Homo sapiens: one gene and its partners. The protein of the gene in region 2 purifies or fractionates together with the protein of the main gene of each other region. This does not show direct contact. Each region holds a gene or a part of one and is shown on either strand. Other genes may lie near its edges. The genes, in order: SIPA1, PTPN4 and TPR.

Region 1 (3,652 bases), on a different chromosome or scaffold from region 2:
CCGCAGAGGGAAGAGCCGGGAAGAGGGCACAGAAATGGGAGCATGGGGGGCAGAGGTGGTGCCTGGCCTGCAGGGGCTGGGGTGGGGGTGCCTTGGATTCAGGGGTGCAGAGGACAGTCCAGCCTTGAGATAAGGAGGATGATAATGTGTATGTTTATTGGAAGGGTCCTTTCTGTGAATCACCTTCTCTACTGCCACATGGGAACCAGCCTCCTCCCATCCCTTCCTACCTGTGCACTCCCAAGCACGAGGAGCACAACAGACTGTACTCACCTGACAGGCAAGGGCACAAGTGGCTCAGAGAGGGCTGGTGCTCAGCCCCAGGCCAGCGTCCCATCCATTCCCTAAGAGCTGGTGGGGTGGGGCTGCAGGGGACTGAGACCTATGCCTTCTGTCTCCCACCCACAGCTGAGCTTCCAACGCAAGGTGGGCATCCTGTACTGCCGGGCGGGCCAGGGCTCGGAGGAGGAGATGTACAACAACCAGGAGGCGGGACCGGCCTTCATGCAGTTTCTCACCTTGCTGGGCGATGTGGTGCGGCTCAAAGGCTTTGAGAGTTACCGGGCCCAGCTAGACACCAAAAGTGAGGCCCAGGGGCAGGAGGGGTGGGAGCAGATCTGTGCTGAAGGGGTGAGCACAAATTGCCTTGTCACTCCTTTGTCCGTACAATCCTGGGGCTGGGGACTGGAGAGTTCTTTGGGTGAGCTAAGGATCTGAGTCAGGGCTATGAGGGCCAAGCTATGGGCTGAAAAGAGGGGCTGGGACTGTCCCTCAAGGCCCAAGTACCCTACTGCCTGAGCTGGGGCTAAAGTGGTTTGGGGGCACTACCCCTCCACCAAACACATTCCAGCAGCTCAGCCTCGTGGAAGAGAGGTGCCCCTACCTCCCTGGTGGAAGGGGCCCCAGGACCCCTGGGAGGTGTTGTACTGAGCACCCCCTGCCTGCTTTTCACTTTCCCAGCATGCCACACATGCTTGGGCCTGGAGTGACACCTGTCCTCCTAGGACACCTGACCCTGCCCTCCCTCTGAGACCACTTCTCATTTCTGTCTTCATTCTATTTCAACTCTCCCATCCTGACCCCCCTTCACTCTGGCATGGGGCTGGAGCCTGTGGAGGGAGAGGAGGAGGGGCACCCAGGGCTGAGGCCCTTGAATCTCGCTGGCTGGGCATTGGCTGGTGGCATGACTGGTTGTCCACCTGCTGTTTGGGGCACAGAGGCTCCTGTGTACAGGCAGGAATGGCAAGTTCAAGCCACTTAGATTCCCCTTGTTTTCTCCTTCTGTGTCCCTAACTTCCTGGCCACAGCGGATTCCACAGGCACGCACTCCCTCTACACCACATACCAGGACCACGAGATCATGTTCCACGTGTCCACGATGCTGCCTTACACCCCTAATAACCAGCAGCAGGTGTGAGGGGGACCAACGTGGGGGTGGGGCTTCCGGGAACCATGGAGGGCCCTGCATGGCCCATGACGTTTGAGCTTTGGCCGGAGCTCTGTTGGCCCCAACAGCCCGCCCCTCTGGTGGCCCCTTCCCAAAGACAGAAACACCCTAGGTCTTCACCAGGGGCAGTGGGGGAGCCATTGGTGCCTTGGCTTTCTCCTGCCTGAATGAGGAGGGGTTTGGGGCACAGAAGACCTCATCACGAGCCCCTACTATCCAACCCCTAGCTCCTCCGGAAGCGCCACATTGGCAACGACATTGTGACCATCGTGTTCCAGGAGCCTGGCAGCAAGCCCTTCTGCCCCACCACCATCCGCTCGCACTTCCAGCACGTGTTCCTAGTGGTGCGGGCACACACACCCTGCACGCCACACACCACCTACAGGTGGGCACCGGAGTGGTCCCAGGTCTCCCGTGGGCATGGAGTCCTGCCGCCCCTCACTAACGCCTCCCTCCCCGCAGGGTGGCCGTGAGCCGCACCCAGGACACCCCTGCCTTCGGGCCAGCTCTGCCTGCTGGCGGAGGCCCCTTCGCAGCCAACGCCGACTTCCGGGCCTTCCTGCTGGCCAAAGCGCTGAATGGTGAGCAGGCGGCCGGCCACGCGCGCCAGTTCCACGCCATGGCCACGCGCACCCGCCAGCAGTACCTGCAAGACCTGGCCACCAACGAGGTGACCACTACGTCGCTGGACTCGGCTTCACGCTTCGGCCTGCCCTCCCTGGGTGGGAGGCGCCGGGCGGCCCCTCGGGGCCCAGGCGCCGAGCTGCAGGCAGCGGGCTCACTGGTGTGGGGAGTGCGCGCGGCGCCCGGGGCGCGGGTCGCCGCCGGGGCTCAGGCGAGCGGCCCCGAAGGCATCGAGGTGCCCTGCCTGCTGGGCATCTCGGCCGAGGCTCTGGTGCTGGTGGCGCCGCGCGACGGCCGCGTAGTGTTCAATTGCGCCTGTCGCGACGTGCTGGCCTGGACCTTCTCCGAGCAGCAGCTGGACCTGTACCACGGCCGCGGGGAGGCGATCACGCTGCGCTTCGACGGGTCCCCCGGCCAAGCCGTGGGCGAGGTGGTGGCGCGCCTGCAGGTGAGCTGGAGTGGTAAACTGGGGCCCCTGCGCGCGGCGGGGCGGAGCCTGCTTTGGACCCCTCCCTCCCGCCGCCTTTGTCCCCTACTCCTGCGGAAGGGAAAGTCGAGGAGGGCAGAGCCAGCCCCGGGGCTTGGCAAGGCCGGAACTGGTGCCCTCGGGTAAGCGACTTCTGGTCTTCATCCCTCGGGCGGTGGCACACGCGGCCCTCGGGGACTGTGGAAAGTTCCGTGTGGCCTGGGACGCAGTCCAGGGGGCGGGCGCTGGGGCGGCCCCACCTCCCGGCAGCCCCGCCCACTCGTCCCGCCCCGTCCGCAGCTGGTGAGCCGTGGCTGCGAGACCCGCGAGCTGGCGCTGCCCCGCGACGGTCAAGGCCGCCTGGGCTTCGAGGTGGACGCCGAGGGATTCGTCACGCACGTGGAGCGCTTCACATTCGCCGAGACGGCGGGGCTGCGGCCCGGGGCGCGCCTCCTGCGCGTGTGCGGCCAGACTCTGCCCAGCCTCCGGCCCGAGGCCGCTGCCCAGCTCCTGCGCTCGGCGCCCAAGGTCTGCGTCACCGTCCTGCCCCCCGACGAGAGCGGCCGGCCCCGCAGGTCAGGGTGCCGGGGACGCGGGGAGGTGGGAGGGCCGGCAGTTGGCCACCGCGCAGTCTGCGCCTCCCGGGTCGCCATCAGCAGTTTCAGGAACCCAGTGTGGATACCTTTCCTTCTGGAAAGAATCTCCCGTCTCTTAGCCCGTCTGAGCCTGTCTCTTCCTGTCTCTGTCTCTCTCTCTTTCTCTGTCCTTCCTTCCTCTCTCTCTCCTCTCTCTTTTTTTTTTTTTTGAGACGAAGTATCCCTCTTGTTGCCCGGGCTGGAGTGCAATGGCGTGATTTCGGCTTACTGCAACATCCGCCTCCCAGGTTCAAGCAGTTCTCCTGCCTCAGCCTCCCTTGTAGCTGGGATTACAGGCATGCACCACCACGGCCGGTTAATTTTTTCTATTTTTAGTAGAGATGGGGTTTCACCAAGTTGGCCAGGCTGGTCTCGAACTCCTGACCTCAGGTGATCCACCTGCCTCGCCCTCCCAAAGTTCTGGGATTACAGGCGTGAGTCACCGCGCCCTGAACCTCTATCTTCATATGTAGAATGGGA
Region 2 (3,652 bases):
TAAAATAAATTCCTGTGCTCTACTTTCAGAAAGTTGCATGCCAATCTGAAACCTTATCTATATTATATTACAGGCTGACCTCTGTGTCCCTAGACTGAATGAAGGGGACCAAGTTGTACTGATCAATGGTCGGGACATTGCAGAACACACTCATGATCAGGTTGTGCTGTTTATTAAAGCTAGTTGTGAGAGACATTCTGGGGAACTCATGCTTCTAGTTCGACCTAATGGTGAGTACTCTATGTAGTACCAGATAATTTATAGTAATTTATTACTGTTCATTACTGAGCACAGCAGCCAGATTTCTGACATAAAACATAAGTCACCTAAGTTTCCTGCTCAAAGCACAGTGGCTTTCATTGACACGTGGAGCAGAATTCAAGTTCTTTGCCCCCCCACCCCTTGCTCCCACTCAGCCTTGCTTACTTTCCTCTATTCTACACTAGCTTTCTTGCAGTTACTCAGATCTTCCAATCTAATCGACTTATTAGGGTTTTTATCCTTGCTGTTCCCTGTGCTGACATACTCTTTTTGATTTTGTTATGACTTATACCTATACTTCATTCAGGTCTCTGCTCAGATATCATCTTCAGAAGGGCTTTCTCTCCTGACTACCATAGCTAAAATGGTCTCCCATTTCCCCTAAATGGTAATAGTTGTAGTACTAGTACTCAATAAATACTAGTTGAATGAATGAGTAAATTTGAACTCTGTTCCACTTTTAGAAAATGCCATAACAAGCTATAGTTAAAGTGTTTTTAAAATACTGCCTTTGTTTTCAGTATATGATGTCTACTTGCCTAATCATGTCATCTCCCAATCTGGACAGCTGACTTGTTAATTCATAGTCATAGAATTCCAGGTTTGGAGAAAACTTGAATGCCGTAAGCTCTAGCTCTTTGGCTAATTGCACGAATTTCCTCCACAACAACCTCAAGAACATTCTACCAATATAGATAGAGCACTTTGTGGCTCCTGAAACAGGTCATTCCATCTTTGGATAGCTCAAACTATAAATTGAACTAAAAGTCCATCTTTCTTCAGTCCTGCTCCTAAGTCTGTCACTCTGTGCTATGCATTATAAGTTTAACCCCCTTTCCTTCAGTTTTTTGACAATAGCTAATTTTACCAGAAACCCACCTCCCTTTCTCCAGTTTAAGAGTCCTAGAGTCTTCAGCCAGTGTTCATATGGCATTGTTTAGAGTTCCCTCAACACTTTATCAGTCTGCTCTAAGAAAAAAGTTTTATATGTCTAATATCCCAGGATTAGACATATTCTTCTGGTTTTGTTCTATACAATTTACTATTAATCATTATTTTAGCCACAGAATAATTATTGTTAATGCCATATTACCACTTGAATATGTACCATAGGAAAGTGAAATATCATTCGAATTCTACTTGTCACCACCACACCCAACCCTGCAAAATTTTGCAAGGATATTTCTTTTTTGTAAACAAAAAATAAAAAATCCTCTTTGTACCTCTTGTTCACAAATAGGCGTTTTCATTTTATCTTCTCCACTTTGTGTTCTTTTCCATTAATGGTCTAGAATTGGCTTTCTAGGAAGATTAAAAGGACTTCAACAGAACATTCTATTTTGACTTTTCAAGGAACTTGTTCATTTAGACTTGATACTTAGGTGAGTCATTAGGTGTTTTCTGTCACATACAGCTACTTAAATTTTAAACCAGGAATAACATTTTTTTCTGTATTTATTGTATTATATTTTCTCTTGATAATAGATCCTAAAGAACTCAATAATATTAGCTAATAGTTATTAAAAACTTTCTGTGCACCTAGGCTCTTTTGTATATTTTCATTTAATCCTCATAGACATCCAATGAGATTGATGAATTATCCCCATTCTAGAGCTGAAGATACTTTGACACCAAGACATTCAGTTACCTGCTCACAGATTCATGACGCCACAGAGCCAGAATATGAACAAAAATCCATATGATGGCAAAGACCCAGCCTTTTTACAATTCCAGATCTCATCCTTTTGCTTTATAGTATGAGAGGAACCCACCAGGGTCTACTTCTTGCAAAATATCTTTCTAAATTGTTTCATAGTCAAAATACGGAGCAGAACCTGCATCTGTTTTCAGTGTGGGTCTGTCTTTTCCATTCTTAAAGTTTCATATAATTAAAATTTAAAACTGTGTTTGCCAAGAATATATTTTTGTTTTTCTGATCTTTTCTCCTTTAATTCTTATTTCTTCTTAGGCAAAATGTTGTCATACCTTTTTGTCTTTTCATTCTTCATTTCAGAAATTTATTTTTCTAAAAAAATGTATAGATATTCAAGGAGGAACCAGATCTCTTAGGCAAGGGTAAAGAGGCCCCTACCTTGGCTCCATGTTTTAGAAGGCCCTGCTTTGGCTCTCTTTCTTCTCCCAGTGGAGTCATAATTTTATAGGACCAAAAGGACATGCCAAGCTGTAACCTCCCTTCCCTTTCTATACCACTTTTTTTCAAACCTCAGTTCTGGGTCCAGATAACCCTGAGCCTCTCCAGATCTTCATGGGTATTTTCCACACATCCGTTCTCTCAAGGTGGGTTCACATGGTGTGTGTATCCTAGCCCAGAAGGTGGCTAAGAGGCTACAGTTTGTGGAGGGACAGGTATAGATATATCTTGCATGTGGGCTGGGATCTTCACATGTATGTTTATAAGCCCCTATGTTAAAAAATGGGACTGAGAGTGGGTAACGGTAGAATACAGGCCTAGGATCTAGGGTCTGAATCTCCTCACATTACCATGACCATGAATTCTGGCCTAGAATTCTCATTTATAGTCTGGCCTCCCAGGTTGTTTTGTAGATACATCACAGAAAGAGGATGAAGCATATTTTGTTTAGCACTGTGTTCAAGTTTTTTGTAACTTCTCATAGTTAAACATATGGTATATAGGTCTCTATTTGTACTCTTGCCCTAGGTCCCCTACAAATTAAGAGCGGGTGTATTCACAGCTGCTTCTCAGCAGCTCTTCTTTCTTACTGTCTCTTCAAGTTATAGACATTTTCAGCAATGTAGCCAAGAACACTTCTTCCCTCCAAAGGTACAGCAAAGCCCCTCAACTCCACAACTAGTTTCTGTCCCCCCATAGTGACACCAGACTCAGATCTGGTGTAATTCTTCACAAATGAATTATTTTTTGAACAAAACATTATACAGTGTATCTGGTAAATTCCTATCGTGTGAATTCATTAAGATTTCCACGTTTTGGGGTTTGTTTGATTTTTTTTTTTTAGCTGTATATGATGTAGTGGAAGAAAAGCTAGAAAATGAGCCAGATTTCCAGTATATTCCTGAGAAAGCCCCACTAGATAGTGTGCATCAGGATGACCATTCCCTGCGGGAGTCAATGATCCAGCTAGCTGAGGGGCTTATCACTGGAACAGTCCTGACACAGTTTGATGTAAGTAATATCATTATATATTAAAAGCATTTTGCTGATATTTGCTAACTAGTTTCATAGTTTCTTAAGTGCCTAATCTGTGCATTATAATTTCTAAACTAAAATGATATTCTGAGAAATGTTTGACATAAAGAGTTCTAAAATGCCAAGTTTTAAAAATTGCTCCCAAAATACTAGCTATGGTTATATAAATAGAATATGTTTTAAAAAGAGGGATAAGGAAATTTT
Region 3 (3,652 bases), on a different chromosome or scaffold from region 2:
ATTTTGCATCTATTCATTTAAATTACTGTTGAATAAAATTAATGAAATTAAGCTCAAAGTAAAATTAGAATTTTTCATTAAGCATCATTTAGTTTTTAATTGATATAACAGATAGTAAATTTGATTAGTAATATATTTAGTTTATTGGATGTAGCTGAAATAAAACATTCTCTACTTTCACAGCACAGAAATACTTGAATAATTTACTGAATTCTAACATTTGTCAAGATAAGAATCTAAGGAAATATGCAGGTAGCAAAGTTTTACTGAACACCTACTGTGGAGTTAGGTAAAGGGATTAAACAATAAGAAGCTGAGATTTTTGCCCTTGAGGAGCTCAATGTAGTGGAGTAAAAAGCATGTATACCACAGAATAAAATACAAAGTTGTAATTGCTGTAATGAATAACAAGAGTGTCATGGGAAAAAATTGAAGAAAGCAATGAAATGGTCAGTTTCAGTGAGAAAGCAATGTTGGATTGAGCCAGTAATTCAGTATGATTTTCCAAAGTGGATTTCATATATTCTTTGTCATTACAAGTGAAAATTTTGGTCCTAGAAGTATGTCCTTCAAATATTAAACACCCATTTTTACAATGACGTGACTTCAGCTGTAGTGGATGCTTCATTTGTCTTTGAAATTACTGTCATCTTCTCATAATAAATCTAAATAAGCAGTCTCATCAGATCTGTATTATTTTACTAACCTTCCTGTGATTCCACTTGTGTAGTGGGCATCACTGTAGCTGTTGGGGTAGTAGTGGGATTTGTAACAGTTGCAGGTGTAACCATTGGGCGGATACTAGCCCTGGGTGTTGACTTATTTCCAGCCATAGCTGCAGCTGTCACTTTACTTGGAGTAGACACAACAGGAGTTGGCTTGATATTGGCTGTTGGTGGGTCTGATGTGCTGGCACTTATAGAGGAGAAAATGGAAGAATAATTAATAACAAATTATTATGCAAATACTTTTAAAAACACAGTGAGTATAGGTCTCCATTTTTTTGTTCACTAAATATTTCAGAGCCTTATTAAAGCTGTTTTGAATTTAAGCATTAAAAACTACACAGGGAATGCTCCAGAGTGGTGCATCCTGACAATGTAAAATGTATCTAGCTGTTGAATTGCTGAACCCAAGTCTCAGCCCAGCATTTTCTATCTGTCATCATGTAACATCACGGGGAAAATCAGTAGCAGCCTAACTTAGAAACCAACTGTAAACTAAAAGATGAGAGACGTTTTCTCTGTCACAAAGCTTCATCTGATAGGACTGAAAGTATGGTGAAAACAAGCTGGCAAATACATGATACAGTTCTGCAGAGAAAACAACTCTTTAGTGTATGTTTTTACAATAGAATACACAGATTTCTTTTTCCTAAACAGAAAGATCACTAGATATTCCCTGAGCTTTAAAAGAAAAATAACAGACTATGAAATAACTAAAACTCACATTCCTCTTTCACCAGAAGCTGGAGTTGTTTTCAATGTGATCTGTCTCTGCTGTTCAGGGACCTATAAAGAGAAAGCTCTTGATTGTTGTTCCTAGCCCACAAGAGTCCACTAAAAATGCCACAAAAAAATTGTCATTATTGTTAATTCTCTCCGCATATATTGAATTTTAGCCAAAATTCACTGACAAAGGCTCCTATATCACCAAGCACTTTCAAGTAAAATGTACAAAGAAAAACAATTTGTTACTTAAGCAGAATTAGCTAATCACCTTATTAGAAGGTTCTTGAGGCTCATCTCTCTGCTCAAGGTGTCTCTCTTGATGCTCCCTGAGTTCTCTTTCCAAGCGACTAATTCGACCTTCATATTGGGACTTTAGCGCAGTAATGCGAACATCCAATTCATCTTTCTGCTGATCTAAGGCTCCATTCCTTTGTTTAAGCTCCTCATTTTCTTTAGTTAGCTGATCTTTTACACCTAAAGAAGTAACCAGGCGATTATATTAATATTATAATCAAACATTTAAAACAGCATTTATGCACTTAATTGGCACATGGTCACATCAGATTCTACTACTATAACATCTACATTAGTTATGATACATCATACATCTCAATGAGCAAAGTTCTAAGTACATTCATGCTTTAACTTATTACTAGAATATAAAATATACTTACTCCAACATAAAAATTTACTTTTTCCTAACTAAAATCTCAAAAAGCTAAAGATCCTAGTTAACAGAAGCCCGTTTATATTTCAATGTATCATGCAATTCATTACTATGAATTGCAAAATTTTTATTTCATATAATCTACAGCACTGTTTAAAAATAATTCAAGAACTTTTAAAATCAAGTAAGTTGTTAGGACACTGTCTTAGAGATCATTTTAAAAAAATGCCTGTAACAAAATCCAACTGATTTGACATTTTATTTAACTACTCAGCAGACTGATAGGCAAGGCTGAATAAAGCCCTGAGCCTTGAAGAACTAGGTTCTTCATAAATTTGACATGATACTCTCCCTGAAAAGCTAGAGGGGTCCTCCACCAAACGAGGCACAAAAAAATCCCTGGGCTGGTAAAGATCTTTATGCAGTCTACATAAGGTTTCTAGACAGCACGGTCTGGGCTCAAAGGATCTCTGTCACAAGATAGAATTGTTATCCATGAAAGCAGAAGGATAGCAGTATTCCATTATCTACTGCCAGCCAACAATTGAGAAAAATTTCATCATATCAAGGATATCCTCATCACTTGAAAATTAGGATTGCTCTTTGTGTCCAACTAATTATTCCTAATATTTAAAGCACACATACACACACAAACACCCTTCATAAGTAGATACCTTTTATTTCTATTCCATTTAGTTTTAGGCCTGCAACACATAATCAACTTTCACTACCAAGTTCAAACTTTAAACAGATATTTACCAGCTAAGTGTGCAATTTTTGACTTTGCTGCTACAATAGCCTTTCTGGTTTTTTCTTCCTTTTCAGTTATCTGTTGTCGGAGCTGCTCCTCCTGTGTGGTTCTATCTTGAAGATCCTGACGAAGTCGTGAAAGTTCAGACTGAAGTTGCACAGTCTGTTCCTGGAGATTTCTTGCTTCTGTCTCTTTTTCAGATAATGTCTTTAAAGGAAAACAAAGTATTCACCATGGAATTCAATCATTTCAATATAAACTGTATGTGGTAGCAACTTAAAGTATAACTTATTAATTTGCTTTTTAAAAGATTAAATGGAAGTATAAGTATAAAAATGGTGGTCAGACCAACTAAATGCACACTTGAAGATGATTGGGTACTACTTACATACATGAGCCATTCAAAGTAAAAAGAATAAAATGTATCCATTCCCACATGGTAAGACAAAGTGTCAGTAGTTAACACATATTTCTTTAGGTGTATAACAGGAAAGAATTAGGAACAGACTGTTCTCACACTCATACCTTCTGCAGATTCTCTACTTGACTTTCAAGTGATTTTGATTTTGTTTCAGCTTGGTTGAGCGTTTCTTTGAGTTCCTGCATTTCCTGGACTGAAACATGCTGCTCCTGATGGTCTCCAGAGGACTGAGCCGATGTCTCCATAACCTAAGACAACAAACAGTAATAATACACTCACATATTTATATTCAGTAATTCCATTTCTGCAAGTTTGTCTAAGAAAATAATCACAGCTTTGCAAAGAAATTTTATCCCTGAAGG

What was found.
Region 1: the proteins of PTPN4 (region 2) and SIPA1 purify together in Homo sapiens (co-immunoprecipitation; one large-scale study listed by IntAct). This does not show direct contact.
Region 3: the proteins of PTPN4 (region 2) and TPR purify together in Homo sapiens (affinity purification with mass spectrometry; one large-scale study listed by BioGRID and IntAct). This does not show direct contact.

The regions. Positions count from the first base shown.
Region 1 is NC_000011.10:65,644,547-65,648,198, forward strand, and holds part of SIPA1 (signal-induced proliferation-associated protein 1), read left to right. Parts: intron 1-408; coding exon 409-583; intron 584-1,307; coding exon 1,308-1,411; intron 1,412-1,674; coding exon 1,675-1,832; intron 1,833-1,909; coding exon 1,910-2,519; intron 2,520-2,837; coding exon 2,838-3,112; intron 3,113-3,652. UniProt on the Homo sapiens protein: GTPase activator for the nuclear Ras-related regulatory proteins Rap1 and Rap2 in vitro, converting them to the putatively inactive GDP-bound state. Affects cell cycle progression.
Region 2 is NC_000002.12:119,951,900-119,955,551, forward strand, and holds part of PTPN4 (tyrosine-protein phosphatase non-receptor type 4), read left to right. Parts: intron 1-73; coding exon 74-230; intron 231-3,257; coding exon 3,258-3,424; intron 3,425-3,652. UniProt on the Homo sapiens protein: Phosphatase that plays a role in immunity, learning, synaptic plasticity or cell homeostasis. Regulates neuronal cell homeostasis by protecting neurons against apoptosis.
Region 3 is NC_000001.11:186,333,619-186,337,270, forward strand, and holds part of TPR (nucleoprotein TPR), read right to left. Parts: intron 3,539-3,652; coding exon 3,395-3,538; intron 3,077-3,394; coding exon 2,878-3,076; intron 1,926-2,877; coding exon 1,720-1,925; intron 1,512-1,719; coding exon 1,450-1,511; intron 916-1,449; coding exon 707-915; intron 1-706.